Homo sapiens: one gene and its partners. The protein of the gene in region 3 interacts with the protein of the main gene of each other region in a biochemical or structural test. Each region holds a gene or a part of one and is shown on either strand. Other genes may lie near its edges.

Evidence for each region.
Region 1: the proteins of PARVA (region 3) and FERMT3 form a complex in vitro, tested with the Homo sapiens proteins (one study listed by BioGRID).
Region 2: the proteins of PARVA (region 3) and FERMT2 form a complex in vitro, tested with the Homo sapiens proteins (one study listed by BioGRID).
Region 4: the proteins of PARVA (region 3) and FERMT1 form a complex in vitro, tested with the Homo sapiens proteins (one study listed by BioGRID).

What each region holds. Positions count from the first base shown.
Region 1 is NC_000011.10:64,209,698-64,216,721, reverse strand, and holds part of FERMT3 (fermitin family homolog 3 short isoform), read right to left. Parts: intron 6,112-7,024; coding exon 5,878-6,111; intron 5,671-5,877; coding exon 5,551-5,670; intron 5,448-5,550; coding exon 5,279-5,447; intron 5,078-5,278; coding exon 4,975-5,077; intron 1-4,974. UniProt on the Homo sapiens protein: Plays a central role in cell adhesion in hematopoietic cells. Acts by activating the integrin beta-1-3 (ITGB1, ITGB2 and ITGB3). Required for integrin-mediated platelet adhesion and leukocyte adhesion to endothelial cells.
Region 2 is NC_000014.9:52,941,046-52,948,069, forward strand, and holds part of FERMT2 (fermitin family homolog 2), read right to left. Parts: intron 1-7,024. UniProt on the Homo sapiens protein: Scaffolding protein that enhances integrin activation mediated by TLN1 and/or TLN2, but activates integrins only weakly by itself. Binds to membranes enriched in phosphoinositides.
Region 3 is NC_000011.10:12,372,665-12,380,583, forward strand, and holds the start of PARVA (alpha-parvin), read left to right. Parts: upstream 1-4,906; 5' UTR 4,907-4,983; coding exon 4,984-5,119; intron 5,120-7,919. UniProt on the Homo sapiens protein: Plays a role in sarcomere organization and in smooth muscle cell contraction. Required for normal development of the embryonic cardiovascular system, and for normal septation of the heart outflow tract.
Region 4 is NC_000020.11:6,120,022-6,126,978, reverse strand, and holds the start of FERMT1 (fermitin family homolog 1), read left to right. Parts: upstream 1-3,948; 5' UTR 3,949-4,205; intron 4,206-6,957. UniProt on the Homo sapiens protein: Involved in cell adhesion. Contributes to integrin activation. When coexpressed with talin, potentiates activation of ITGA2B. Required for normal keratinocyte proliferation.

The DNA of each region.
Region 1 (7,024 bases), about 52 Mb from region 3:
CAGGTTCACGCCATTCTCTTGCCTCAGCCTCCCAAGTAGCTGGGACTACAGGCGCCCACCACCACGCCCGGCTAATTTTTTGTATTTTTAGTAGAGACAGGGTTTCACCGTGTTAGCCAGGATGGTCTCGATCTCCTGACCTCATGGTCCGCCCTCCTTGGCCTCCCAAAGTGCTGGGATTACAGGCGTGAGCCACCGCGCCCGGCGAAAAAATCCTTATAGAGGCTGGGCCCGGTGGCTCACGCCTGTAATCCCAGCACTTTGGGAGGCTGAAGCGGGCAGATCACGAGGTCAGGAGTTTGAGACCAGCCTGGCCAATGTGGTGAAACCCCGTCTCTACTAAAAATACAAAAATAATTAGGCCAGGCGTGGTGGTGCATGCCTGTAATCCCAGCTGCTCGGAAGGCTGAGGCAGGAGAATGGCTTGAACCAGGGGGGCAGAGGTTGCAGTGAGCCGAGATCTTGCCATTGCACTCCAGCCTGGGTGACAGAAGAAGACTCCATCTCAAAAAAAAAAAAAAAAATCCTTACAGAGCTAAAGCACTGCACTCATAAATCAAGACCAGAATATTCTTTTTTTAAAGGAATGTAACTGGGCGCAGTGGCTCACGCGTGTAATCCTAGCACTTTGGGAGGCCGAGGCGGGCGGATCATTTGAGGTCAGGAGTGTGAGACCAGCCTGACCAACATAGTGAAATCCTGTCTTTACTAAAAATACAAAAATTAGTTGGGTGTGGTGGCAGATGCCTATAATCCCAGCTACTCAGGAGGCTGAGGCAGGGGAATCTCTTGAACCCGGGAGGCGGAGGTTGCAGTAAGCCGAGATCGTACCACTGCACTCCAGCCTGAGTGTGACAGAGTGAGACTCCGTCTAAAAAAAAAAAAAAAATCCCAACTTCTCAGGAAGCCGAAGCGGGAGGATAACTTGAGACCCAATCTGGGCAACGTAGCAAAACTCCATCTCTAAACAATTTTTAAAGAATTAGCCAGGCTTGTGGCACATGCCTGTAGCCCCAGCCACTCAGGAAGCTAAGGCAGGAAGATTGCTTGAGCCCAGGAGTTCAAGGTTGCAGTGAGCTATGATCGCACCACTGCACTCTAGTCTGGGTGACAGAGCGAGACCCCATCTCTAAAAATAAAAAAAGAAAGATAAAAATATAAATTTGGTTCTATTAAAATAAAGAGCTGCTGTTTATGAAAAGAAACCATTCAGACAATTAAAAGGCAAAGCACAGAGGGGGAAAATATATTCACAATGTATTTATCTGGCAAAGTGCTCATATCCAGAATATATAAAGAACTCCTACAAATCAATAAGAAAAAGACAAACGACTCAATATGACAATTGTCAAAATGTTTGAACAGAAACCTCACAAAGCAGGATATCCAGATGGCTAATAGCCTTATGAAAAGGGACTCAACTTTATTAGTCATCAGGGAAATGTAAATTAAAGCCACATGGAAAGCAGATCAGTGGTGGTCGGGGTGTGGGAGGAGGAATGACTGCAAATGGGCATCGTGCAATCAGTGCTTGTCTGGGGCAGTGGAAATGTTCTAAAACTGGATTGTGGTGATGGTTGCACAACCATACACATTTGTTAAAAATAAGCTGAGCCGGGCGTGGTGGCTCATGCCTGTAATCCCAGCACTTTGGGAGGCCAAGGCAGGTGGATCACCTGAGGTCAGGAGTTCGAGACCAGCTTGGCCAACATGGTGAAATCCCATCTCTACTCAAAATACAAGAAGAAATTAGCTGGGCATGGTGGCGGTGGGCATCTGTAATCCCAGCTATGTGGGAGGCTGAGGCAGGAGAATCGCGTGAACCCAGGAGGCAGAGGTTGCAGTGGGCCGAGATCACGCCATTGCACTCCAGCCTGGGCAACAAGAATGAAACTCCCTCTCAAAAAAAAAAAAACCCTATAAAAGAACACTCAAAAAACAAGAGCTCTTGGAACTTAAAAATATAGTTACAGAAATTAAAAATTCAATAGATATTTTAGAAGATAAGTTGAAGAGGTCTCCGGAGAGTAGGACACAGAAAGAAAAAGAACCGAAAAATAAGAAAGAAAAGTGTAGGCCAGGCATGGTGGCTCACGCCTGTAATCCCAGCATATTGGGAGGTTGAGGCAGGTGGATCGCCTGAGGGCAGGAGTTTGAGACCAGCCTGACCAACATGGTGAAACCCCATCTCTACTAAAAATACAAAAAATTAGCCAGGCGTGGTGGTGGGCGCCTGTAATCCCAGCTACTAGGGAGGCTGAGGCAGGAGAATCGCTTGAATCCGGGAGGCGGAGGTTGCAGTGAGCCAAGATCACACCATTGCACTCTAGCCTGGGCAACAAGAGCGAGACTCCATCTCAACAACAAAAATAGATAAATAAATACAGTTAGCTGGGCATGGTGGCGCGTGCCTGCAGTCCCAGCTACTTGGGAGGCTGAAGCAGGAGATCGCTTGAATCCGCGAGGTGGAGGTTGCAGTGAGCTGAGATTGTGCCATTGTACTCCAGCCTGGGCAACAAGAGCAAAACTCATCTCAAAAAAAAAAAAAAAAAAGGCAATTATGAACTTCAAAACCATTTGAGCAAAAAGGGAAAAAATAATCATAGTTACTCTGTGGCTTAACTAGGAACACTATTTATATGTGTTACTATTTACAGCCATATCACATTGTTTTAACCAAAGACTACAGACACTACTCACTTAGAAAGAGGCAAGGAAATGTGTGTATTGTGTGGGCAGGGAAGAGAATGTAAGACAGTGAAACCTTCTTACAAAGTCAATAGATAATGTGTGAAATGGCAAAACAAAGAAGTGGAAATATGTCATAGAGAAGAAAACACTAGAATAAAAAGGCACAGCTGGCCCGACGCCGTGGCTCACGCCTGTAATCCCAGCACTTTGGGAGGCCAAAGTGGGCAAATCACCTGAGGTCAGGAGTTCGAGACCAGTCTGACCAACATGGAGAAACCCCGTCCATCTCTACTAAAAATACAAAATTAGCTGGGCATGGTGGCTCAACGCCTGTAATCCCAGCTACTCGGGAGGCTGAGGCAGGAGAACTGCTTGAACCCAGGAGGCGGAGGTTGTGATGACCTGAGATCACGTCATTGCACTCCAGCCTGGGCAACAAGAGCAAGACTCCATCTCAAAAAAAAAAAAAAAAAAATTAGGCCAGGCGCAGTGGCTCGCTCCTATAACCCCAGCACTTTGGGAGGCTGAGGCGGGTGGATCACCTGAGGTCAGGAGTTCGAGACCAGCCTGACCAATATGGTGAAACTCCATCTCTACTAAAAAAATACACTCCTATTACCCCAGCAATTTGGGAGGCTGAGGCGGGTGGATCACCTGAGGTCAGGAGTTCGAGACCAGCCTGACCAATATGGTGAAACTCCATCTCTACTAAAAAAATACACTCCTATAACCCCAGCACTTTGGGAGGCTGAGGCAGGTGGATCACCTGAGGTCAGGAGTTCGAGACCAGCCTGACCAATATGGTGAAACTCCATCTCTACTAAAAAAATACAAAAATTAGCCAGGCCCACACCTGTAATCCCAGGAGAATTGCTTGAACCCAGGAGGAAGAGGTTGCAGTGAGCCGAGATTGCACCACTGCACTCTAGCTTGGGCAACAGAGCAAGACTCCATGTCAAAAAAAAAAAAAAAATTAGCCAGGTATAGTACACGCCTATCGTCCCAGCTACTTGGGGAGCTGAGGCTTAAGGATCACATGACCCTGGGAGGTCCAGGCTGCAGTTAGCCGGGATAACACTACTGCCCTCCAGTCTGGACAACAGAGCAAGACTGTGTCTCAAAAAATAAAAATAAATAAATATATAAATAAATAAAGCTTAGGAGAGAGACATCTGAGCTGGAGATGATCAGCTGGGAGAGAGTGTGGAGATGGTATTGAAATCCACAAGACTGGAGATGACTGAGAGAAGGAGAGGAGAGAGCAGAGGCCCAGAGCAGAGCCTGGGGCAGAGCCTGGGGCTCACCAACACCGAGAGGCCATGGAGAGGAGGAGGGAACATCACAGAGCCTGGCAGAGTGGCTTGGGGAGAGGCCACCCCCCAAGCAAGTGTACAGGAGGCTTCAGGAGGAAGATATTCTGGAGGAGTGGTCGGGGTGGTGTCTATGCTGCAAGTAAGTGGTCAAGTAAGAAGCGGGTGGGACATGGCCAGGGAACAGATAGCCTGGAGACGTGGCCACCTCAGCAGGTGCACTTCTCACGTGTGGATGGTGTCAAAATATATAGAATAGCCATGGCCAAGGAGTGAGAGGGAGTCGAACAGCACCCAGAGAAAGCTTGGAAGCAAGAAGTGGGATTCTGCGGAGCAAGCGTTCAGACAACTACGATGTTTTGCAGAGAAAGGGGGCAGAGAGGTGGGGCCTACAGGTAGAAAGAGCAACCTGTGGACTTCTGGGAAGTTTTTGAGATGTGCGCGAAGCACATTGCATGGAGCATTTTGCCTGGAGCATGTTGGTTGCCAATGGAGGAAGGGAGGAAGAGTGAACAGGGCACAGAGGGGCCACCCTGCAAAGCTTCCTTCCTCACCCACCCCCAGGTCCTGCAGTCCCTAATGGTGCCCCCTCCAGGAAGCCTTCCCAGAGCTCCCAGGCTTGGGCCTCTCCCACCTGAGCCCCAGACTTCTCAGGGGCACCCACACACACACTGTCTATGAGGATCTGTGGGTCTTAGCTTCCTCCCTGACAGCTCCCTGGGAAACAGGCACTGAGACTTACTGGTCTTCATCCGCTTCAGCATCTGCCCGGGGCCCAGGACCTGGCCTGATGCTGAGGTGAGTAGATGAGTTTCAGTGGGTGTTTGTGGGGTCAGTAAACAAAGGTGTGGATGGACAAACGGGCAGACGGACAGGCCACTACAAGTCACTAACATCCCAGAGCCCATACCCCAGGCCCTAGGTCTCCACATCTCATGGACCTGAGGCCCGCTTTCTCCCTGCCCCGACCCACCTTGGGATCCAAATCGAAGAAGCTGTAGTACTTGAAGCGCAGCCAGAGTGCGTCCCCGGCCTTGATGCCCTGCTGCATGAGACACCGCGACGAGTCCAGCCACCTGGGCCGCGGCAGAAGCAGCAGTCAGGGCTGCGCCAGGTACGGCCGTGGGGTGGGGAGGGGGGCTGGGCTGGGGGGACAAGCACACACAGAGAAAAGGCCTGGAAACGAAGTGTGGATCTGGGGTGGGCACAGACACGGGACAGGGGGTGGATCCTGGGTGGGGGAGCCCTGACACAGGGGGCGTGGCTCCTGGGTGCACCTGCTGTGGAGCTGGGTCTTGTCTGACAGGGAGCTGGGCCGTGGCAGACGCTGGAGCAGGAGGGGGTCGGGTGGCGGCTGGGGCCGGCTCAGCATGTGGTAGCAGGCCTCAGTCTGGGCGCTGTCCGAGAAGTGAGCTGGCATCCCCCGGAACAGTGCAGGTGCCACGCCTGGAGTGCAGGTTGGGAGTCAACCAGGCCTGTCCCCCAGGGCTGGGACTCACGGGCCGGCCCCTGCCCCCAACCCCCCAGGCCCACCCCCACTTGCACTCACCCCCAGCCAAGACAACCTTGCTCAAGTCATAGAGCTCTTCCTCTGGCTCCTTCTCTTTCTTCTTCTTCTCCTTCTTCTCAGGAGCCCGGAGCAGGGACAGCTCCTCGGGGTGCCGGATGCCTGAGGGGAGCTAGGGTCTCAGCGGGGACTAGGTCCTGCTGCAGCCTCCCCACCTCACCCATGGGTGCTTGGGGCGGGTCACAGCCCTGCAGGCAGGGTGGCAACCCAGACAGCAAGGACAGCGTCAACAGAGCTGGGCCTGGAAACGGGGGAACCTGCCTCTTTGCATCACCCTCGTGGGCCAGGGGAATCAGCCGGGCAACTTACTGAGGAGGCGGCAGATGGCAGCCACAGCCTGGAAGAGGGGCTGGGAGAAGCTGGCACGGAGGCGCAGTGCGCGGCGGTTGGGCAACCGAAGGATGACGGGCCGGTGCTGGGGCCCAAAGAAGAGGCGTGCGTCGGCCAGGATCCCGTACTTGTCCAGTGTCCAGTGGGTCTGCAGCAGCCACTGCCTCTTCTGTTCCCACCAAATAGCATGGTCTGACCAGTCCTGCTTGCGATCTGTGGGGCACGGGGGCACATCTGGGTCCAACCTTCCTCCCTGGTGCCCCCAACACCCAGCACAACCCCAGGATTCAGAAGCCTGGGGCGACCACTCCCCTGCCCTGCCTAAGCCAAGAGTGGGGCAGCCTGGGCGGGCCTGGGGTCTACCCCATGGTAACAGCAGCAGGGCTCTCTGCAGGCAGCCCCTGATTTGGCCTTCTAGGCTTGGCTTCTATATCGCTTCCCAGGGGAGCTCTCCAACCCAGCATCTGAGTGCCCCAATCTTAGCGCCCCATCTCTTGCATTCCAGCCCACTGGGCTCCCTCCACATGACGCCCCCTCTGTCCTCCCATAATCCACGGTTTAACAGCCTCTGTCTTGCATTCTGGGGAGCTCCTGGAGGCAGAGACTACGTCTGTCTCACCGTTGTATGTCCTCAGGGCCTGGACCTGTGCCTGGCCTGGAGCAGTGAGCACTCAATATTTTTAGCTATTAGCTGTGTGACCTTGGACAAGCCACTTAACCTCACTGGGCCTCAGTTTCCCTGTAAGATACAATAACGATCTTACAAACTGGGACACGGAACAAGGCCTCCCATGTGGTAGCTGCAGGGTTTGCAGCAAACTTGTGCACGCACATGACGATCCATGAGTGAGCATTGAATTAGAGATGTGCGTCTGTCCCTTGTCAGCCAGCTGGGAACTGGAGTTACAGTAATGGAAGGCACAGGTCTCCCCGCCTCCTCCCTCCAGGAGCATGAACAGGTGGGAGAGAGCATAGGAAAAAGGCTGCCGGAAAGCTGCTCTGGGCACACAGCCCTTGAGAGTTTGCAAAGCCCTGTTTCCTGAGTTCCTCCCAGGTCCTCCCGGTGAGTTTTCTGATTCCCACTGCATCCCACCCACCTCAGCCAGCCCCCAACCCCACTGCTGCA
Region 2 (7,024 bases), on a different chromosome or scaffold from region 3:
CATCTCCTAAAACTGGGAGTAACCCAAATGCCCTTCAATTGCTAAATGGACAAACTGTGAAATAATCCATTCAATGGACTACTACTCAGTGATAAAAAACTATTGATACAAACACATGAACGAAGCTAACATGTATTATGCTAAGTGAAAGAAACCAGATTCAAAGAGCTAGAACTGAATGGTTCCATTTGCAGGCCATTCTAGAAAAGGCAAATTATCACTGGTTTTTAGGATCTGGGTTTGAGGCGATGAGACGGTTACAAAGGAAACTTTTGGGAGTACTGTAAAAGTTTTCTATCTTGACTGTGGTAGTTTTACATGTCAAAACTCAGAATATTATACTAAGAAGGATAAATTTTACTATATGTCAATCAGACCTCAATGAGCCTGACACTAAGAAAAAAAATTAACAGGAAAAACAATTATATAGTAATTATGCAACTAATTTGTTAAAGAATGAATTATAACGAATATGAATTTGTAACCACAAACCCAAGTGCAGAAGTCACACTTCTTAATTACAAAATAAAAGAATTATTTAAAAATACACTTTCAGATGTATTTGTTTACTTCTCACTGGGCATATATACCAATTTTAAATGTTCCATGGCATAAGCATTAATTTGTCAGTAAAATAATTATTTAAATAGGAATACTGCATACATTAGCTTTTTTCTGAAACTACTTTCATTAGTTTCTAAATAGGCCCAATGTTTTCATGTGCCTTTGCTATAAATGAACTAAAAACACTGCTCTTATAGAATATATTAAGTAGAGAATTAATTTACTACTGATGCTTTCATGGTTTTAGATTTTTCAAATACCTGGAATACCATCATCCACTTATTGGTCCCCTGCATTTCAGAAATCTTATTAAAATGGTACTTAAATAGCTCTCTTACACTGCAGAGGCAGGTGTGTGTTTGGAAGTTGGCGGGAAAGTAAAATGACAGCTATTTTTTCTTGTTGTTTAGAGGGTGGGAACAGAAAGCAATCCTAAACTAAGCTTTTTTTGAGGAGTGCAATTCCCCACCAGTAAAGCTGGAACTTATTAAATATACTAGATTATATTTTAACCTACTTTTCCTTTTTTTCCTTCCTACTTTCATATACTCAGAGACTCAATGCCACAGAGAAGTATCCACTCTCATTTGCATAACACAAATAGTTTATATAAAGTATATATACATGTAGTATCAATATATATGTATTATCTCATTTAATTCTCACCAAAACCTGTGAGAAAATGTTTTTCTTTTTCTTTTTTTTTTTTTTGAGATGGAGTCTTGCTCTGTCACCCAGGCTGGAGTGCAGTGGCGCGATCCCGGCTCACTGCAAGCTCCCCCTTCTGGGTTCACACCATTCTCCAGCCTCAGCCTCCCGAGTAGCTGCAACTACAGGCGCCCACCACCACGCCCAGCTAATTTTTTGTATTTTCAGTAGAGACGGGGTTTCATCGTGTTAGCCAGGATGGTCTTGATCTCCTGACCTCGTGAGCCACCTGCCTCGGCCTCCCAAAGTGCTAGGATTACAGGCGTGAGCCACCCCGCCCGCCCCAAGAAAATTTTTTTCAATTTCTATTTTATAGAAGTCAAAACCCACTCAGGTTGGATTCATTGTCCAAAGGTCATACTAACCAGTAAAGTAGCAGACAGAGCCAGAAGTTGAATCCAGATCTTCTGACACACTAGGCAACCTGTTATTTCTTAATAATCTGTGCCTCCATCAGCACCTACTACAGTCTGAGAACAGCTGACATTATGGGAAACCTACATCCAATGATGTCTAAAACTATTATTAACAGCTTATTTAATAGTAAGCTAAGAAGTAAACTAAATTTTAAAAATAAAGTATGTGAAAAAGAACCTATAAAAATATCACTCTTGGCCAGGCGTGGTGGCTGATGCCTGTAATCCCAGCACCTTGGGAGGCCGAGGTGGGCGGATCGCCTAAGGTCAGGAGTTCAAGACCAGCCTCGCCAACATGGTGAAATCCCATCTCTATTAAAAATACAAAAATTAGCGTGGTGGCGGGTGCCTGTAATCCCAGCTACTTGGGAGGCTGAGGCAGGAGAATCACTTGAACTTGGGAGGCGGAGGTTGCAGTGGACTGAAATCGTGCCACTGCACTCCAGCCTGGGTGACAAGAGCAAAACTCTGTCTCAAAAGAAAAAAAAATCACTCTGAAGTGAAATTTGCACTGATACTAAGAACCTTATTTTAAAAAGGTTAAACAATGTCTTAAAAGACCAAGGCTGAGGAACTGTTCTACAGGGTGGCCATAAAGTTTACAAACAGATACTATCATTTTACATGTATCTTAATGTAATGTCAATAAGCCATTTATTATATAATCTCCTGTAGCTCCACACTTGGTGGCTGTTCTGTATATCAAAGGAGATTAAGAGGCCCTTTCAACTAAATGCGAAATGAGATTCTGGATGGGAAAAAAACAAAGGCCATTATTGGGACAACTGGCAAATTTTGAAAATGGATGCATATTAGATGACAGAAGTGAATCAATGTTGAATTTCCTGAATGTGATCACTATACTGTAATTATGCAAGAGAAGTTTCTTGTTCTTAGGTGATACATATTTAAATATTTAGGAATCAAAGGTTATGAGTAAGTCTGAAACTTCATCCAACTGCTCCCCAACATGTGTATGTTTGTGTGTATAGAAAATTCAAATGGCAAAATACTAACTGGTGTCTAGATGAAGATTACGCAGTGTTCACTCAATTACTCTTGAACTTAGATGTTTGAAACTTTTAAAAATTAAGAGCCAAAGATAACAGGTAAAATTTTACATATTTTCTTTCCATTCTCTTCAATAGCGAGCGATTAGACATTTCCAACAAGGCCTTTTATAAGTAATTGAATAAACATATTTTTAGCATCTCTATAAATAAGTTAACTCTAGTTGGAAACAAACAGTTTTTTACTTTAAAAAACTGGGTATAAAACATAGCAGCAAAACAAAAACAAAAGGCAGCAAATAGCACATACTCTAAGGAATAGCTCATACTTTATTAGCTGTCACAGGATTACAGTAAAACTTGAGTACTGTCCTCCACTTTTAAAGAACTTAAAATTTGCTAAGAAACTGATACAATTTAATTCACTTCCTATGGATCATGAACAGTGTTTTAAACACTGAGTAAACTTACTATCAGATTTAACCAAAACTTAATTCACTTTAATAAGATTTTAACATTGTTTCCTACTCCACCCCCAAGATTTAAAAAAATTTCTTATAATGTTAATGTATTTCACTATGAATGCAATGAGGATGCATCATGTAGGCATTAATTTCCATGAATTCAGTTGTGAGCCCTCAAGGGGAAAAACTAAGGATTTCAACTGCATAGGCACCATTCCACCAAATAAGCACACACCTTCCCCAGGGAGCACTAAGCCAGGGTATAAGGGAGCTGTCCAGTTACGTATGCCTCTTTCCCAGTGTGCATCTTGCCAAGCTCTAATCCTAGTGTTTAAAGTATTTTTTTGTGTAACGAAGCCCCTCATGTAAGCCAGTTTCTTCATCTGGTGCTCAATTAATGAAACTTATTTTTGGAGTTCCTAGAGGAAAAACTAGCTATTTTCCACTTCTGTGAGATGCAATGAACGTATACCATACTTAATGATCACGTTAAGGGATTTTTAGTGGTAACTTTATTAAAATCTATTTCTTTTTTTGGTCACATGTGCTAAGTTCACAATCTAACTTGATCCTAACATGCAACTCCAACATAAATGAACTTTTTTCATTATTATATGGCAAGAACATGACACACTTTTAAAGCAAGGACTTCTTTCTAAAGGCCACGTTCAGAAATATAATCCTCAGATTTTCTTTTTCTTTTTTTTTTGGAGACAGAGTCTTGCTCTGTTGCCCAGGAATGGAGTGCTGGGGTGTAATCACAGCTCACTGCAGCTGCAAACTCCCAGCTTCAGGCAATCCTCCTGTCTCAGCCTCCCGAGTAGCTGGGACTACAGGTGCGTGCCATCACGCCTGGCTAATTTTTGTATTTTCTGTTTTTCTGTAGAAACGGGATTTCACCATGTTGCCCGGCTGGTCTCAAACTCCTAGCTCAAGCAAACAACTTCTGAGCCTCGGCCTCCCAAAGTGCTAGGATTACAGGCGTAAGTTACCGCACCCAGCCAATCCTCAATTGTTCTATGTTTTTTTGTTGTTGTTTTTTTTTTGTGGGTTGGGGGCGGGGGGACGGAATCTCGCTCATCACCCAGGCTGGAGTGCAGTGGTGTGATCTCAGCTCATTGCAACATCCGCCTCCCAGGTTCAAGCGATTCTCCTGGCTCAGCCTGAGTAGCTGGGATTACAGGCGCCCGCTACCATGCCTGGCTAATTTTTTTTTTGTAATTTTGGTAGAGACGGGGATTTCACCATGTTGGCCAGGCTGGTCTAGAACTCCTGACCTCAGGTGATCCACCTGCCTCAGACTCCCAAGGTGCTAGTATTACAGGCGTGAGCCACCACTCCCGGCCTAATCCTCAATCTTTCTAAAGCAACTTCATATGTTTCTTTTTAGTTACTCCTGAGTCTTCCAATTTGCATTTTTTTCCCTTGTAGATTGTGTGACTTGATCTAACCCAACTTCTACATTCTCTCTACTCATAGAATCAGAGCTAGAGGAAACTTAGAGATCACCTATTTTTTCCTCTCTGCTCACAGAGCTGGCTGGAGATTTCCATTCAGTGAGCTCCAGATTATAATAAATTCCTTATTCTCCGTTTAAAATGAATTTTTATAGAAAGGTGGAAATTTAATTGTACACATAAGTTTTAAAAAGACATTTTAAAAAGTGATACTAAAACTCAGTGAACAGATCCACTTGGTATTTAGCGTCTGCCAGGCTGGAGTGCAGTGGCACTATCTCGGCTCATTGCAACCTCCGCCTCCTGGGTTCGAGCGATTCTCCTGTCTCAGCCTCCCGAGTAGCTGGGACTACAGGTGCCCATCACCATACCCGGCTAATTTTTGCATTTTTAGTAGAGGCGGGGTTTCACCATATTGGCCAGGCTGGTCTCGAGCTCCTAACCTTCTGATCTGCCCGCCTTGGCCTCCCAAAGTGCTGGGATTAGAGGCATGAGCCACCGTGCCCAGCCAAGGATTTAATACTTCTCAATGACCTCCAGAGGAATCCCATAAAATTGGGCCTCTTCTTGACAAAATTTATTTTTGAAGACAATTTTATTTTGATGTCTTGTTTTTATAATCCTTATCCCTGATATTTCATATTTAAAATTTTTCTTTTAAAAAACACTATACACGTTTGAAATTTGTCTTTGATTAAAAAAAAAAAAACAGGCATGGCAGCTCACATCTGTAATCCCAACACTTTGGGAGGCCAAGGTGGAAGGACTGCTTGAGGCCAGGAGTTCAAGACCAGCCTGGGCAACAAAGCAAGACCCATCTCTACGAAAAATTTTAAAAGTCAGCAAGATGTGGTGGTGCGTGCCTGTAGTTCCAGCTACTCAGGAAGCTAAGGCAAGAGGATTACTTGAGCCCAGAAGTTTGAGGATGCAAAGAGCCATGAACACACACTCACTCCAGCCTGGGTGACAGTGCAAGACCTTGCCTCAAACCAAACCAAACAGTACTAAATTTTCACAATTCTTTTTTTTTTTGAGGCGGAGTCTTGCTCTGTCGCTTAGGCTGGGTGGTGTGATTTTGGCTCACTGCAACCTCCGCCTCCCAGGTTCAAGTGATTCTCCTGCCTCAGCCTCCCAAGCAGCTGAGATTCCAGGCACATGCCACCACATCCAGCTAATTTTTGTATTTTTAGTAGAGATGGGGTTTCTCCATGTTGGTCAGGCTGGTCTCGAAGTCCTGACCTCAGGTGATCCACCTGCCTCAGCCTCCCTGCCTGCTGGGATTACAGATGTGAGCCACCGTACCCAACCTAAACTGGATTTTAGGGTGTTTTTCACTTTCTGGATGAAGTATAAACACTGAGGGGATCAATTATTTATGAAGTATCAGCCTAGACTAAGTCACAAATGCAAAAACTTTGTCACATTACGATATAATTCCCCAAAGCCCACTTCATGACATATGCTTTTGCTTTCTTTTAAAAGATTAATAGCAAATGACAAATGTGTTTTATACTGAGATTTAAAAGAGACCTAGGATGGGCGTGGTGGCTCACGTCTGCAATCTCAACACTTTGGGAGGCCAAGGCAGGCGGATGACGAGGTTAGGAGATCAAGACCATCCCGGTTAACACGGTGAAACCCCGTCTCTACTAAAAACACAAATAATTAGCCAGGCATGGTGGCGGGTGTCTGTAGTCCCAGCTACTCGGGAGGCTGAGGCAGGAGAATGGCGTGAACCCAGGAGGCGGAGCTTGCAGTGAGCCGGGATCGCGCTACTGCACTCCAGTCTGGGCGACAGAGTGAGACTCCCGTCTCAAAAAGTAAAAAATAAATAAATAAATAAATAAATGAGACTTTTCAGATCTTTGAATTAAAGTCAAAATTCTAAAAATTGTGTTTTAATGGCCTTAAGCAAAGTGTACACGTTATTTATAATAAAAGTCTAACTAAACACAAAGATATTACTGACACATATTAAGGAAACATTATTTACACTTATGTCGTGCTTAATTAAAATGCCGCACTCTGGGATGAACCCTAGCTTCAAGATGAACCTGACACACAAGGGCCAAACCATAAAATTGTGTCATGACTTCTTTTGTTACAGACCTCTTTGAGAAATTAAAGTGAAGAAGCCTCTTCCTAGAAACTTCCACATGTGCACACACACAATTTTAATACAATGTTGAGGGAATAGGTCATCCTGAGATCTATCGACTTCAGGGAAATAATTGCTGCTACTGAACATTATCTGGGAAAATCACCTTAAAATATAATGCTTTTGGTATTCATATACCGTCCAACAGATTAAGAAGGATATCAGACAGTCTGGAGTTTGAAAATGTAAGTGAATGCTCTGGTGTCTTCTGTTCATAACTGCTTCAAGGCCACAGTAGCCCAAGTCT
Region 3 (7,919 bases):
TGCAATGGCACAATCTCGGCTCACTGCAGCCTTTGCCTCCTTGGCTCAAGCCATCCTTACACCTCAGCCTCCTGAATAGCCGGGACTACAGGCACATGCCATCATACCTGGCTAATTTTTGTATTTTTTGTAGAGACAGGTTTTTGCCATGTTGTCCAGGCTAGGTTTTTGCCATGTTGTCCAGGCTGGCCTTGAATTCCAAACTCAAGCAATCCACCCGGCTCAGCCTCCCAAAGTGCTGGGATTACAGGCATGAGCCACCATGCCCAGCTGTAGATTTTTATTGAAGTATAAAATACATACAGAAAATCTGCTGAAAGTACTATGTGTATGTCTCATTGATTTTTAAAAGTGAATATATCCACGTAACCAGTATCCAGATCAGGAAACAGAACATTAGCAGCTTCAGTGGTTTTCCTCATGCCACCCACTCCATTCTAGTCACTACACCTTCCAAGGCTAATCAATATCCTGACTTCTAACATTATAGAGTAGTTTTGCCTGTTTGTGAACTTTACTTGAATACAATTATACAGTATGTGCTCTTTTGTGTCTGATTTCCTTCGCTCAACATTATATTGTAAGATCCATTCCTGTTGCTGCTTGTAGTTGCAAATTGTTCACTCTCATTGCTGTGGTTATCACAATCAATTCAACTGTTAACAGGCAGCTGAATGGTGCTGCTGTGAACTTTCTAGAGCCTATCTCTGTGTGTACACATGTACTCATTTTTGTTGGGTATAACCTATAATTGAAATTGTTGATCATAAGGTATGTATGATGGTTGGCTTTAGTAGGTACTGCCTTGGCTTCATTTTATAGATGATGGGAAAAATAAATGCAGAAAGGGAAGAGATTTACCCAAGATCACCTGGCTGCTAAGCTAAGATTGGAACCTGAGTTTATTCTCTTCCAGTGCATTTGTCTAGGCCCCAATTTCAAGAAGAGGCAGCCTAGAGATTCAGCAGAGTCTTACGTATCACACATTTAATTGATGATCTGTCCTTAGAATCAAATCCCTTGGGTAAGATGAAAACAATGACCGAGCATGAGAGGAGGTGCTGTTCAGTGGGGACATAATTGTAAATACCAATTTAGAGTGGAGGGAGCTGGTACAAGGTCTTCCCATCCTATCAAAGAATAGCATGCAGCATGTCTCTAAGTAAGATTTAGATTCAGCCTACTTCAGTGCCAGGCCCTGTAGATGGTGCTTTCCCACAGATTATCTCATTTACTCTTCTAAACAAAAACCAGATCAATTCACATTCTTAAGGATTCTAAAAGCATTATATCAAATGAGAGTAGATGAACTCTCTAAGTAAACACGAGCAATGTAGAACAGTGCTTCTTAATCTGCTAAAGGACCAATTCATCATAGAGCAATATTTTTGTAAATAAAAATAAAAAATTACTAGAAAAATAGAATGAAAAGATATTCAAAATATAAGCTTCTGATTATTGTTAGATTAAACAGACATAAAGTGTTGTTAAATTGCTATAAAAGTTTCTAAAAACTCTCAATTTCTACATTTATGTCATTGGCTAATTGTTGGGAACAGGCCCCCCAAAATCTGGCCATAAACTGGCCCCAGAACTGGCCATAAACAAAATCTCTGCAGCACTGTGACATGTTCATGATGGCCATAACGCCCACGCTGGAAGGTTGTGGGTTTACCGGAATGAGGGCAAGGAACACTTGGCCCGCCCAGGGTGGAAAACCACTTAAAGGCGTTCTTAAACCACAAACAATAGCATGAGCGATCTGTGCCTTAAGGACATGCTTCTGCTGCAGATAACTAGCCCAACCCATCCCTTTATTTCGGCCTATCCCTTTGTTTCCCATAAGGGATACTTTTAGTTAATCTAATATCTATAGAAACAATGCTAATGACTGGCTGGCTTGCTGTTAATAAATACGTAGGTAAATCTCTTTTCGAGGCTTTCAGCTCTGAAGACTGTGAGACCCCTGATTTCCCACTTCACACCTCTATATTTCTGTGTGTGTGTCTTTAATTCCTCTAGCGCCGCTGGGTTAGGGTCTCCCCGACCAAGCTGGTCTTGGCAGCTAATAATGGTATCCAGATCAATACTGGTTTGCAGACTACACTGTGAGTAGCACTGATTTATAATTCACCACCCATTCCCACTGGCCTTTCCAGAAAGATTGATAATGATCTTACCAGTAGAAATGCTTGAATAACAAGGTATCAGCATAATATTGAGACCCTGGCAACCATTCCCACCAATGCAGGTTACTGCATACATTAACAGGACTTTATCGTTCCCCTGTCTTCCAAAAATTTCTTGCCCAGGAAGATAAAAAGCTATGAATAACTTTCTTGTTCTTTTCAAGAACTCCCCACCAAATCTCATTGAAATGAACATAAACCCATTAGACTTTTCAATAGATAGCATTAAAAAGACTATTTACTCTCCAAGACTCTTGGAAAGCTTTGCCTAGGGTCTACCAGTCCTTATCTATTATATCATGATCCTTAGTCAAACTTAATCAAGCACCATCCCACTGGAAGGCCTGTCTTCATCAAGATTCCAAAACCTTATAAATATCCCTTCCCCTACTCCAAGATGCTACTGAGACTCTGCCAAGGCAGGGCTCTCCTTATCATGGTGTACAAAAAATTCAGCTTTGCCTTCTTCCACAGCTTATTTTGCTGATATTTTCTGGGAGCTAGCATTCAACAATCAAGACTTTACTCCTCCTTTTAGCCTTGCTCAGTGGTTTTCCAAGTTTAACGAACATAACAATTACTGAGGAGTATTATATATGCAAAAGCATGCATGGGCAACTGAAGGAATCTCCATGGGTAATTTTGATTATGGCACATTTAGGACTAAGCCTTGCATACAGATATTAGCAATTTTTGAAAGAATAAAGAACCACAGACTGTTAAGAGCTGAAAGTAGCCCTAAATGGCAAGACATCAGGGTGTGAATCAGCTATTAATACATCGAAATCACCTGATGTAGTCTGTTTAAAAAACACCTATCCCTTGGTTTCACCTGAGATCGACTGAATCAGAATTTCTGGAGATGGGGCCTGTGAATGCAACAAACTTCTAAGCGACTGTGATGCACGATCGAGTTTGAAAACCACTGTTCTGTGCCAACCATTTCATTTTGTAGATGAGGAAATGGAGACTCAGAAAAGGGAGTAAACCTTTCCAAGATCACACCGCTATTGAGCTACGTGTCTCTTAATTCCCTGACAAGAGCTCTCGGGGCTGGAGATACGCTTTTGGAGATGTCCTATATCTGATATCCTGAACAAAAATGATTAATGATGTAATCAAAACACACTTATATTTTGGCTTCTCACCATCCCTTTAAGATTTATTGTCTAGGAGGAGTTGTAGTAATCTTCCCAGGCTAGCAGACATCATGACTTTTCTGCTGTTAAGTAAGAGGCACCAACTAAAGCAGATTTTTTTTTTTTTTAAAAAAGGTAAAATTAAGACTCTTAAGATAAAATGAACCTATACGGTGTTGAGAATCTGTTGACTATCTTTTTGTTAAATTTTAGTTCTACTCAGAAACTGTTGCTTGTCACTTTATTTAGTTTAAGGAACTGTGGATGGGTTAATAAAAGGCTGAGTAACATCTCCTGGGAAGAAGCACAGCTGGCCCTGGCAGGAAGTGCAAGTGGGGTCTGGGAAAAGATTCAAGGTCCAAGCAGCTACTCCCCACGGTTTCCATTACTCAGACCACGTGGCTTCTTGAGCACACTTCTTTGCTCCATTCTTTGGTTTCCCTACTCCTCAGCATGCACGTGGCTAGAAACAGCCACCCTAGTTTTGATTGCGAATGATCATCAGTCACGAGCACAACTTCTGACAACAGTCTCTCCAGCTTAGTGCAGTCTTAACTGGGGCCAGCTGATCGTCTGCTCTTCAGTAAAGCAGTAGCGCCCTTTGGATTAGGTGTTCACCCAGGTTCAATCAGCTGTGGCCTAGAAGGGGCCACAAGGAGGAAACACAGTTGCCAAGGTGCTGTGAGTCTGTGTGTGAGAGACAGACAGAAGGACAAAGAGCCAGAGTGAGAACTTGAGATGGGTAAGCTCAATAACACGTGCCTTTTAATCATTTCCAGTATGAGTCCTTCAAACACTGTGCTTTGTATGACTCCCCTGTTATCTCAAATGAGTCTGGTTGTCACTCTCTTGCTTTTATTTAGGCAGGATAAATTTTGCGGGAAGTCCTGTAGGAGCTCATGGTTGTGCTTTTCCCATTCATGTTTCCACCACCACGTGGGATCTTCCTTTGTATAAGCTGCTGGAAACACGGATGTCTTACAAGAATAAGAAGCCTCGGCTTTACCCTTGTGCACTCCAAGCTTCTCAGTCTTGGATGGGAGTAGAGACGAGGAGGTTGACGGTCATGGATAGGTTCAGGAGTGATTGGTTCTGCCCACTTTGGTGGGGCCTGGACACATTTTGGTTCACTGCAATAATTTCTTCCAGGAGCTGCAGTCTTGTGGGCGCAAGACGTGGGCCTGATAACCCCACAGGCAGTAGTGCTGGGGCAGAGCGAGCTCACCAGCCGCCGGCTGGAAGACCCCGGGAGAGTAGCAGGGTTGGGTTGGTTCTCAGATGTGTTTTGCGCCAGGCTGTGTGGTGGGGACAGAGCCTGGGTAAATGAAGCTTTCCGGCTCGACCGCTCCCAACCTGGGCACACACGTCCTCCTGTCCTGCAAGGGGCAGTTTTGGGGCATCCTCCCTGCTTGGGGCAACCCAGGGGCGCAAGGCGCGGCCCCGGGAGCGCAGCTCCTTCCAGGGCAGAGGGCGGCGCGAGGGAGGGAGCGAGGGAGGGAGCGAGGGAAGGGAAAGGCGAGCGTGAGCTGCCTCAAATGCTTGGAATAATTCCGCTTCCGTTTGGAAAGCCGCAGCCTCAGTCCCGCCGCCGCCCGCTGCGTCCGCCCAGCGCCAGCTCCGCGTCCCGACCGGCCCGCGGCAGCCTGCGCCGCGCCATGGCCACCTCCCCGCAGAAGTCGCCTTCTGTCCCCAAGTCTCCCACTCCCAAGTCGCCCCCGTCCCGCAAGAAAGATGATTCCTTCTTGGGGAAACTCGGAGGGACCCTGGCCCGGAGGAAGAAAGCCAAGGAGGGTGAGTGCGGCCAGGCCGGCCGGGCGGGCGGTAGGAGCCGGGGGTGCCGTAGGGGCCGAGGGGCCGGGGCACTGGGACCGGGCGGGAGCGCGCCGCGGGTGCCCGGCGCGGTGGGGCGCGCGGCGATGCGTGCGCGCGCTTCCCGGGTACGTCGGGCAGGAGCGACGCGCACCCCACACTGAGCCCGGGGCTCGCGGGCCATCGAGGCCACCCCGCCCGCTCGCGGTCGCCCGGGCGCTGCCCTCCTGGGCCGGGGACCAGGCCAACGCCCCCGCCGGGCCGTGGGCGGGCGCCGCTTGGCGGCCGGAGGCGGCGGGACCGGAGCCCAGGCGGGGCCCCAGCCCGCAGACAGTGCGATCCAGTAGGCCCTGCCCCGCCCTCTGCGCCCGAAGGCTGGCATTTCCCAAGTTTCCGCTGCAGCTTTCCTGGGCGCCGTCGCTCTTACTCGTTGCCTTCATTGGTCCTTAAAATCAGGTCGTTTCCTGGACCTGCTGACGTCCTCTGGCAGCGGCGTCGTGGCTTTGGCCTCTTCGGGATCTTTTGTCCATCCCGAGGGCTGAGAAGGGCTCTGTTAATGGAGTAGGTGGACATCGAGTGTTTGTTGAATGAATGAGCGAAAAACTGGCAAACCTAGCGTGCCCTCGGTGTAATACACAATAAACTCCCACCAAAGGAGAAAACCTGCGTGAGACACAAACTTCGTCATGGGCCTGCTGTGAACTCAGGCATTCAGGGCTTTCGTAAAAACCTTTGTTTTTTCCCCACCAGAGTGAATTGAGGCGACCTTATTCTTTTTTTTTTTTTTTTTTTTCAGGGTAGTTTGCATGTAAAATATTTTTTTTTCCCATGCACAGATTTTGCGTCCTGGTTTTTGGTTTGAAAACGAGGTGGCAGTTCTCAAGAAGCACTGTGGTGACTGGTGTGTAGATAGAAGTTGCTGAGTTAAACATTTTTGTTTTAAACATTTTTTAGTTGATGCATGATGTACATAGTTCTGGGGCACATGTGATAATGTAATACATTCATATAATTTGTAAAGATCAAATTGCACAGGAAAGGGGTCCCAGTCCAGACCCCAAGAGAGGGTTCTTGGATCTCACGCAAGAAAGAATTCAGGGTGAGTCCACACAGTAAAGTGAAAGCAAGTTTATTAAGAAAGTAGAGGAATAAAAGAATGGCCACTCCATAGACAGAGCAGCCTGGGGCTGCTGGTTGCCCATTTTTATGGTTATTTCTTGATGGTATGCTAAACAAGGGGTGGATTATTCATGTCTCCTCTTTTTAGACCATATAGGGTAACTTCCGGACGTTGCCGTGGCATGTGTAAACTGTCCTGGCGCTGCTGGGAGTGTATCAGTGAGGACGACCAGAGGTCACTCTTGTCGCCATTTTGGTTTTGGTGGGTTTTAGCCGACTTCTTTACTGCGACCTGTTTTATCAGCAAGGTCTTTATGACCTGTATCTTGTGCCCACATCCTATCTCATCCTGTAAGTTAGAATGCCTTAACCTTCTGGGAATGCAGCCCAGTAGGTCTCACTCAGCCTTGTTTTACCTGGCCCCATTCAAGATGGAGTTGCTCTGGTTCACATGCCTCGGACAAAATCACTGTACTTGGGATATCCATCACGTTAAAGATTTGTCTTTTCTCTATGCTAGACCACTGGAATTCTAGATATTTTGAAATATACAAGAGGTTATTGTAAAATATAGTTAGTTTACCAATCTAACACTAGGTCTTCTTATATCAAATGGTATATTTGTAACCATTAATCAACTTCTCTTCCCCCCTAAAAAATGTTTTTAATAGATTGCTCCATGAATTAGAAATAACCTTTTGAAAGCTGTGATGCTGTGTGAAATTTTCATGTTTGTAAGTCATCTTAAAGTATAAAAACATCTTCAGCGCTGAGGATTATCAGACTTGATGAAGAACTAGACTTCTATTCCCTAGATTGAAACGAGAAGCAGCAAAAACATACAAAAGTTTCCCCACATTGGTTATTTTGGTAACCCATCGAGTAGTGTACAGTTGGTGGCAAATCATGAAACCCTGGCTTGGGAAGCTCTTTTCTAGACCATGTTTCTAACTTCTTCCTTGCAGCATTCCTGACATAGTCTCATCCAGTTTAAGATGGGGCAACTGAGAAATATTGAAGCTCATGACCTACCAGGATAACCATCTTTACCTACTCTGTAGAAATTTATCTCTCTGTACCTATCACTGTTGGTAGAGCCAGAGAATGAGTCTGGGGTGGCCTTTTATTACTACCTTGCTGAAGTAGGCTATCCTGCTTTCTAGAGTCTTCTCTCCACCAGGCCCAACATCCTCTATTCCTCACAGACATAATTTTAAGGACTTTTGCATCCTGTCTCTTTAGTTTCAGACAGGGTCCCTGCAGGAAAAAGAAGGCCAATTTAGTTGAGATTTTGAAAATAATTTAGTGAAAGGGCTATTGACAGAGCTGTGGGCAGGGTTAAGGGAACTAAGAAGGGATGCTGAGGTCCCTAGGGGCTAGCAACAGGAGGAAGCTCTTAATCACTCCGAGGCCTGAGGGACAAGGGAAGCAAATTGGAACCTATTACAAGCTGGGGTTATGGACGAGGGGCTGCTGGACTGGAACTATAGTCATAGAGGGATGCAGCTACTGTCCGAAATATGCAGACAGAGCAAGGAGAGAGTGGCACAATAAATGCACATTCTGCATGTTCTCTGTCTTCTTGCCCGTGCATCACCTACTGGTGCTGAACCCAGTGGGAAGCCATCAGAGCAAGGGATCTGCAATAGATAGGGGCAGCGTC
Region 4 (6,957 bases), on a different chromosome or scaffold from region 3:
ACACGTGAACACAGCTGCCATTTTGTATGTGCCAAGGACTCAATGCAAATAAAAATATATTTTAGGTGTCTGTTGCCGTTTTGAAGTCATCAGACTTCTAGCAGGTTTATAAGCTGAAAACTTAATAGAGAACTTTATATTGGGTAAATATTTATCAAAATCATCAATCAGGAAAAAAAAATCCACTTCTTTTCTCCTTCAAGCAGCTTTCTTATTCTACCTAAATTAACTCTATAGAATTTTTAGCAAAAAGGTGCTAGAGGAAAAAATCATTTGTGTTTAACAAGTTAAAGCAGCAGAGACTTTCAAAGTTCTCTACTCATTTATTTCCCTTTTGTGTTCAGTGAATACGGAATATGGCCACATCTCTCATTCAGTCTAATCTACCCATACCCCAGACATGACATGACTTACTTTTTTTTTTTTTTTTTTTTAACTGAGACAGGGTCTTGCTCTGTCACCCAGGTTAGAGTGCAGTGGTGCAATCATGGCTTACTGCAGCCTGGATCTCCCAGGCTCAAGCGATCCTCCCACCTCAGCCTCCCAAGTAGCTAGGATCACAGGCACATACCACCACACCCAGCTAATTTCTATTATTTTAAAAATTTTTTTCTTCAACTTTTATTTTAAGTTCAGGGGTACATGTGCAGGTTTGTTACGTAGTAAACATGTGCCATGGTGGTTTGCTGCACAGATCATCGCATAATTTTTATGATTTTTTGTTTTTTGGTGGAGATGTGGGTCTCCTTATGCCGCCTGAGCTGGTCTTAAACTCCTGGGCTCGAGCAATCCTACTGTCTTGGCCTCCTAGGTGTTGAGATTACAGGCCTGAACCACCACACCCAGTTGATTTACCTTTTTGAAGGTACTAGTTCAAAGGTGAGTTTATCAGTGTATGGGTAATTGACAACAGATTTTTTTTTCAATATTTGCAACTTGAATGTATAAGATTTCAAAGTCAAGAAATAGAGCTTCTCTTTATCTTCCACCCTTCTGCTACCTGAAGCGCAACTATCTGCTAACTAAAAAAAATATATTAATACCTTAAAACAGTTCTCTAGAAACCTCAGGTTATTATAAGAAACTATGAAGCTCTTATCCAATGTTTCAAATTCCATCTCAAAAATCACCTCCTTTCTGAAGCCTTTTCTCATATTCCCTGCCACTCCAAACACCTGGCAGAAGTAGACACATTCTTCTGTATTCCTTAGCATCCCTCCTATCATCTGAAGACAAAGTGCGTGCCCAGTTAATCTGAGTATTTTCAACATATATTACGATGTCTAGCTCACAGTAATACAGTGACTAGCAAATAAATAATCCATTGCTGATTAATATGTATGAATTAATTAAATAACAGACTCAGTGAATTGATTCTGCTTGTTTTTTAAGGGGGCAAAGGGTGTGCTTTTTTTAATATATATGTACAAAATTTTGAAGTTCAGAATACACTTTTTAACCCACTTCTAACCCAGGACCTTGGGGGATGGGTTGGACCTGTGTCACACAAACGACAGTAACCGTGTAATAAGTAAAACATAAAGTTAAATTAAAAGCCTAGGACAGCCGGCCATGGTGACTCACACCTGCAATCCCAACAATTTAGGAGGCTAAGATGGGAGGATGGCTTGAGCCCAGGAGTTCAAGACCAGCTCAGGCAGCTAAATTTAAAAATTAGCCAGGCACGGTGGTTCACACCTGTAGTCCCAGCTTGGGAGCCTGAGACATCAAGGCTGCAGTGAGCCATGATCATGCCACTGCACTCTGACCTGGGGGAGAGCAAGACCCTTTCTCAAAAAAAAAAAAAAAAAAAAAAGCCTAGGACACATAATATGGATAAAACTCACAAACATAATGTTGAACACAAGAAGCCAGACACAAAATAGTGCACATGGTCTGATTCCATTTATATAAAGTACAAAGACAGGCAAAACCCTTCTGAGGAGTTAGAAGATAAGATAATGGTTATCCTGGGCCTGGGGTCGGGGGTAGGGGCAGGCAGCGGCAGTGATCATAACTGAAAGGAATAACTAAAAGGGGTCACTAACGGGCTTCCGAGGACTGGTGATGTCCTGTTTCTTCAACTGGGCACTCTTTATACGCTAGTGTCTTTATATACTCTGTATACAGGTGTGTTCAGTTTGCGAAAACTCATCAGCTATACATTCACGATTTGTGCTCTTATCTATATATATTGTGTATATGTATGGGTGTGTATATATATGATACACATTTATATACACACAAGTCACTACATAAAATTACAAGTTTAAAAATTAACCTAGGCCAAGAAGAACGCTTAAAACCAGTCGAATTCTTTAGCACAATGCAGATATTTTCAATTGAAAAGAGAAAAACCATATTGGTATGAATAGATAGAGCCATAATTCAAGGTCACACATAAAATCTTGACCACAGGCTGGGCACGGTGGATCACACCTGTAATCTTAACACTTTGGGAGGCCGAGGCAGGTAGATCACAAGGTCAAGAGATCAAGACCATCCTGGCCAACATCATGAAACCTGGTCTCTACTAAAAATACAAAAATTGTAGTCCCAGCTGCTCGGGAGACTGAGGCAGGAGAATCACTTGAACCCGGGAGGCGGAGGGTGCAGCAGTGAGCCAAGATCGTGCCACTGCACTCCTGCCTGGGGACAGAACAAGACTCCATCTCAAAAAAATATATGTGTGTGTGTGTGTGTGTGTGTGTGTGTGTGTGTGTTTGTGCGCGCGCGCGCGCGCGCACTGACCACAGTCTAAGTTCTAATGGGCCATAAGCAGGGTTTCATGATGTTAAGAGGTAGGGAAGTGGGACCAGATGACCCTTCCCATCGTTGACAAACGCTACCAAGTGAAGACATTCTGTTTCAAGTTTTTAATGATTTTATTTCAATTATAATATCCTATATTTGCCAACAATGTTCAACTAACCTTTTTAAATTAAATGTACTTTCAAACCCATAATAATTCCTGAATATGGTAATGTTTAAGCGAAAACAGATTCAACTTCTAAATTTTATAACTTCTTTATTAAAATTTAAGTGTTCACAAGCCTTTTAATGCAAATCGCTAAAGCCTGTACTATATTGCATGAAATCCCTCCGTGGAAGAGCACGCATTCTATCTCTGTACCTATTTCACAGATGAGGAAACTGTCATTTCCATGTCTGTTTTATTAACCACTGTATTCTCTGAGCCCAGGCCCATTGGGAGGCCTGTAGAGCAGTAAGCACTCAACAAATGTGATTAAATGAACAAAGGAGGCTTGGAGAGGTTGTGTAAACTGCCCAGGTCACCCACCCTTCCTGGGTGGCCCCAGCCCTCTTTGAAAATAAATCCAACAGGAAGGCGACTGGCGGGACCGGTGGTGATCCTGAGGTGAGCCATACCAGGTGTGGCCCAGACTTCCGCATGCAGCCTGCCCTTGGGTCTCCTGGAGTCTCCCCTGGTCGGGAGCCTCAGCCTTCTGGAGACTGACACCACCCTCTTACTCAGAGACGAATCGTTTTGTCGTTGCCTTCACCTCCCTGACCACAAGTGCTCCGGGGCTCTTTCTGAGGGAGGCAGCTGTTCTAGGCGGGAGGCTGGAGTCTCCTGGGCCTGGACGCACCCCGGGGTGTGAGTGATGGGTATGCCTGAAAGGAGGGGAAGTGGCGCGGCTTTAATCATCTGGGCTAGTCCCCGGCGGGCCTGGGGGAACAGGGAAACTGGAGGCGGCCTTAAAGCGTCAGGATGAGACATCGCAAGAGGAGCTGCAGATACTGAGCGTGCGCCCCGGGTTCTCGCCGCCTTCTCTCCGCCGAGCAGCCCTTCGGCCACCCTTTGCCCTTAAAAATCTGCAGACTGCGCCTCCTCTCCGCGGGAGCGAGACCTAGCAGGCCCGGGGCTGGGCGTGCCCTCGCCTGCCACGCTGCGCGCTGCCCTCAGCCGGGCCGCTGGGGCCGTGCAGTGCACCGGGCACGCCGCGCCAGGCTGGGGGCAGGCACCGAGCCTCCGTGGGAGGTCCCGAGGCAGCTTCGCCTGCTCGCCCTGGCTCCAGCCCTCACCTGCCGCAGCCTTAGCTGAGCAGCCGCCGCCACTGGGCGCCCCCCGCTCCCCACTTCGCCAGCGCCCGCTCCTCGGCTCGGCCCGGGGTAGTTTGTAGGGACGCAGCTCTCCACGTGCGCGACTGCGAGGCTGGACGCTACGGGCTCCTGGAAAGGAGGTGGGTGCTCCGGAGCTAGGGCTGGGGAGCTAGAGGTTGGGAGGCTTTCATGGGCACCAGTGGCTCCTGAGCCCCCTTAGCCCCTTTCTTTCTGCAGCCTCTTGTACTTAAATAGCTGTTGATTGAAAATAATTTCGTCTGGATGTGACCACCTTCTCCGGCCCTACGCATCTGGCCGCAAAATAAACTTTCAGTTCAGCCGCAGGTGCTGCCTTAATGGGAGTAAGGGGCATGCTTTATCCACCCAACATCCGCCCCAGGATCCTGCAGAGCTGGCAAAAGACAGGTCGGGTGGCCTTCGAACACCAAGCACCTTCAGATATTCCAGGGGAAGGGTCGGGGACTGTTTCCCCCTCATCTTTCCTCCTTCCTGCTCTCCATCCCTCCATGCTTTCGTTTCTTTGACTGTCTGCGAAGGGCTTTTCAGCACTCTGCCAGTAACTTTGCTTCTTGTTTTGGTCTCCTTAGATGCGTTTTCCCGGCTGAAGTTTGCTGCTATCCTTGACAAGTAACAGCTTGCTGCAGACTAGACGTTCACTCAAAAATGAAGGCACAGAAAGATAGGAAAGGAATGCAGGAAAACCAGCTTGGCTAATTTTAGCCTGCATTTTGTTGTAAGGGGAATCAGCATCTATTGCCTGAATGAGTAGTGTTTTGATCACCCAAGTTAGGAAAAGACCTTATATCAGATTGCCCAGTGAAATAAGCAGTAAGGAATCACCTTTAAAAGTTATTTTCTTTATATACAAAACATTTTAAATAACTAGACTTCACAATTATAGCATTTAAGAAATTGTAAGGATCTTAAAGTCGAACAGTTCAATGCCAAGTTATGAGTTTGACGATGAAGGGGCATCTTTTGTCTCCTCACTGCGCAAGATTTGTGTTGATAGAAATGCTTAGTAAAGGCTACTGAGAATTTAGTTCACGTAGTTTGAGGAGTTTTCTTTCATTTTGGCATTGCAACATTATCAAAGTGGTTTCCCAGTGTGGTGAATAAGAGTTTGAAATAGAAAGGCAGACCTGGATTTCCACCTGGGCTCCAGCATCTAACTTGCTGTGTGACCTCAGGCAACTTGCTTCATCTCTCTGAGGCTGAGTTTCCTCATTTCTAAATGAGATTGCTGAGAGGATGAAAAAGGGATAACAGAAGACAGGAGTTAACACAGAGCACATCATACAGTCAGTAGGTAATAAATGATACCTGAAGCTGATGATGACAGAGGCAAGCAGTTAGGCCTAATGCAGTCACTGAGTGGCACTCCTCATGCAGAGGGTTCTGTGTGGATCTCTGTGCATGGGGAGGAGATGCATTGCATCGTTGCATGCTTCTGACTATAGAAACATAAGGAACGGCTGGGCGTGGTGGCCCACGCCTGTAATGCCAGCACTTTGGGAGGCCAAGGCAGGTGGATCACGAGATCAGGAGTTCAAGACCAGCCTGGCCAGCATGGTGAAACCCTGTCTCTACTAAAAATACAAAAATTAACCGGGCGTGGTGGCACACGCCTGTAATCTCAGCTACTTGGGAGGCTGAGGCAGAGAATTGCTTGAACCCGGGAGGCAGAGGTTGCAGTGAGCTAAGATCATGCCACTGCACTCCAGCCTGGGTGACAGAGCAAGACTCCATCTCAAAAAAAACAAAAACAAAACAAAAACATAAGGAGCTACTTCTGAACTCTTGAATTTCATCCTCACCCATAAAATCTGTCCTAAATCTGTTCAGATTTGCAGTATTCAATTTATCTGTGTAGCGTATTTTGAGATTCTCTTATGCTTACAAATGAGTCGTTTCGAATGAACATGCAGAACAGATATGACACTGGTTGTTTAATTATTATTAAAAGTAATGTTCCTCGGATATTACCATCATCCCTGGTTTAATATTGATCTAAATAGGTTGAAGGGAAGAACTGAGTATACCCACAGACCAGCAACATCTGGAGCCTGTTAAGAAATGTATGGCCCCTCCCTAGACCTGCTGAATAGAATCTGCATTTTAATAGGATCCCTGGGGGATTTGTGTACACCCTCAGAGAAGCCCTTTCTTAGGAGTTTGAGTGCATTGATGTTTCTTAAAAATAGGCCTTATGAAAACATGAATTTCTCATAAGCTGGCTTTACATAGTAAAGTGAAAAAGACTCATTATCATTTAAATAATTTTTACTTTAAATGTTTAAAACAGCCAGGAGCAGTAGCATTATTTCTTTCTGTTTAAAAGTAAGAGAGAACTGACATCTCAAGTTTTGTTTCAGTTCTGCCAATTTGGATTCCAGTGTTCCAGTTACCCCCTGAAACATTTCAGTTGTGAACGTTCTTTCCTGCTAGCTTCTCCCATGAGGGGAAAACGATGGGTTTGAAATTCACATCCCTATCTGTACTTTGAAGAGTGAGCTTTTTATATCTGTTACTCCTGTTTTTAAATCTTTTGCCAAAGATGTATCCAAATTTTTAATTGGTGCATTTATAATCAATTTTTATATGACATAGAACAATAAGTAAATCGAATACATGGCAATAATTATTAATGACCTGTATCTATATGTATTTAAGGTAAAACTATATATTATAATGACTGAAATAGGAATTATTTTGCTTTTTTTTATTTTTTGAGCTTTATTATGGGAAGATATACATTTTTGTAGGAGGAATGTAATAATATACATATATTAAAGATATTAAAGATAAGAGGCTTTAATGGCATCCTTTTTAAACATCAACTTTATTGAAGTATAATTTGCATACAACAAA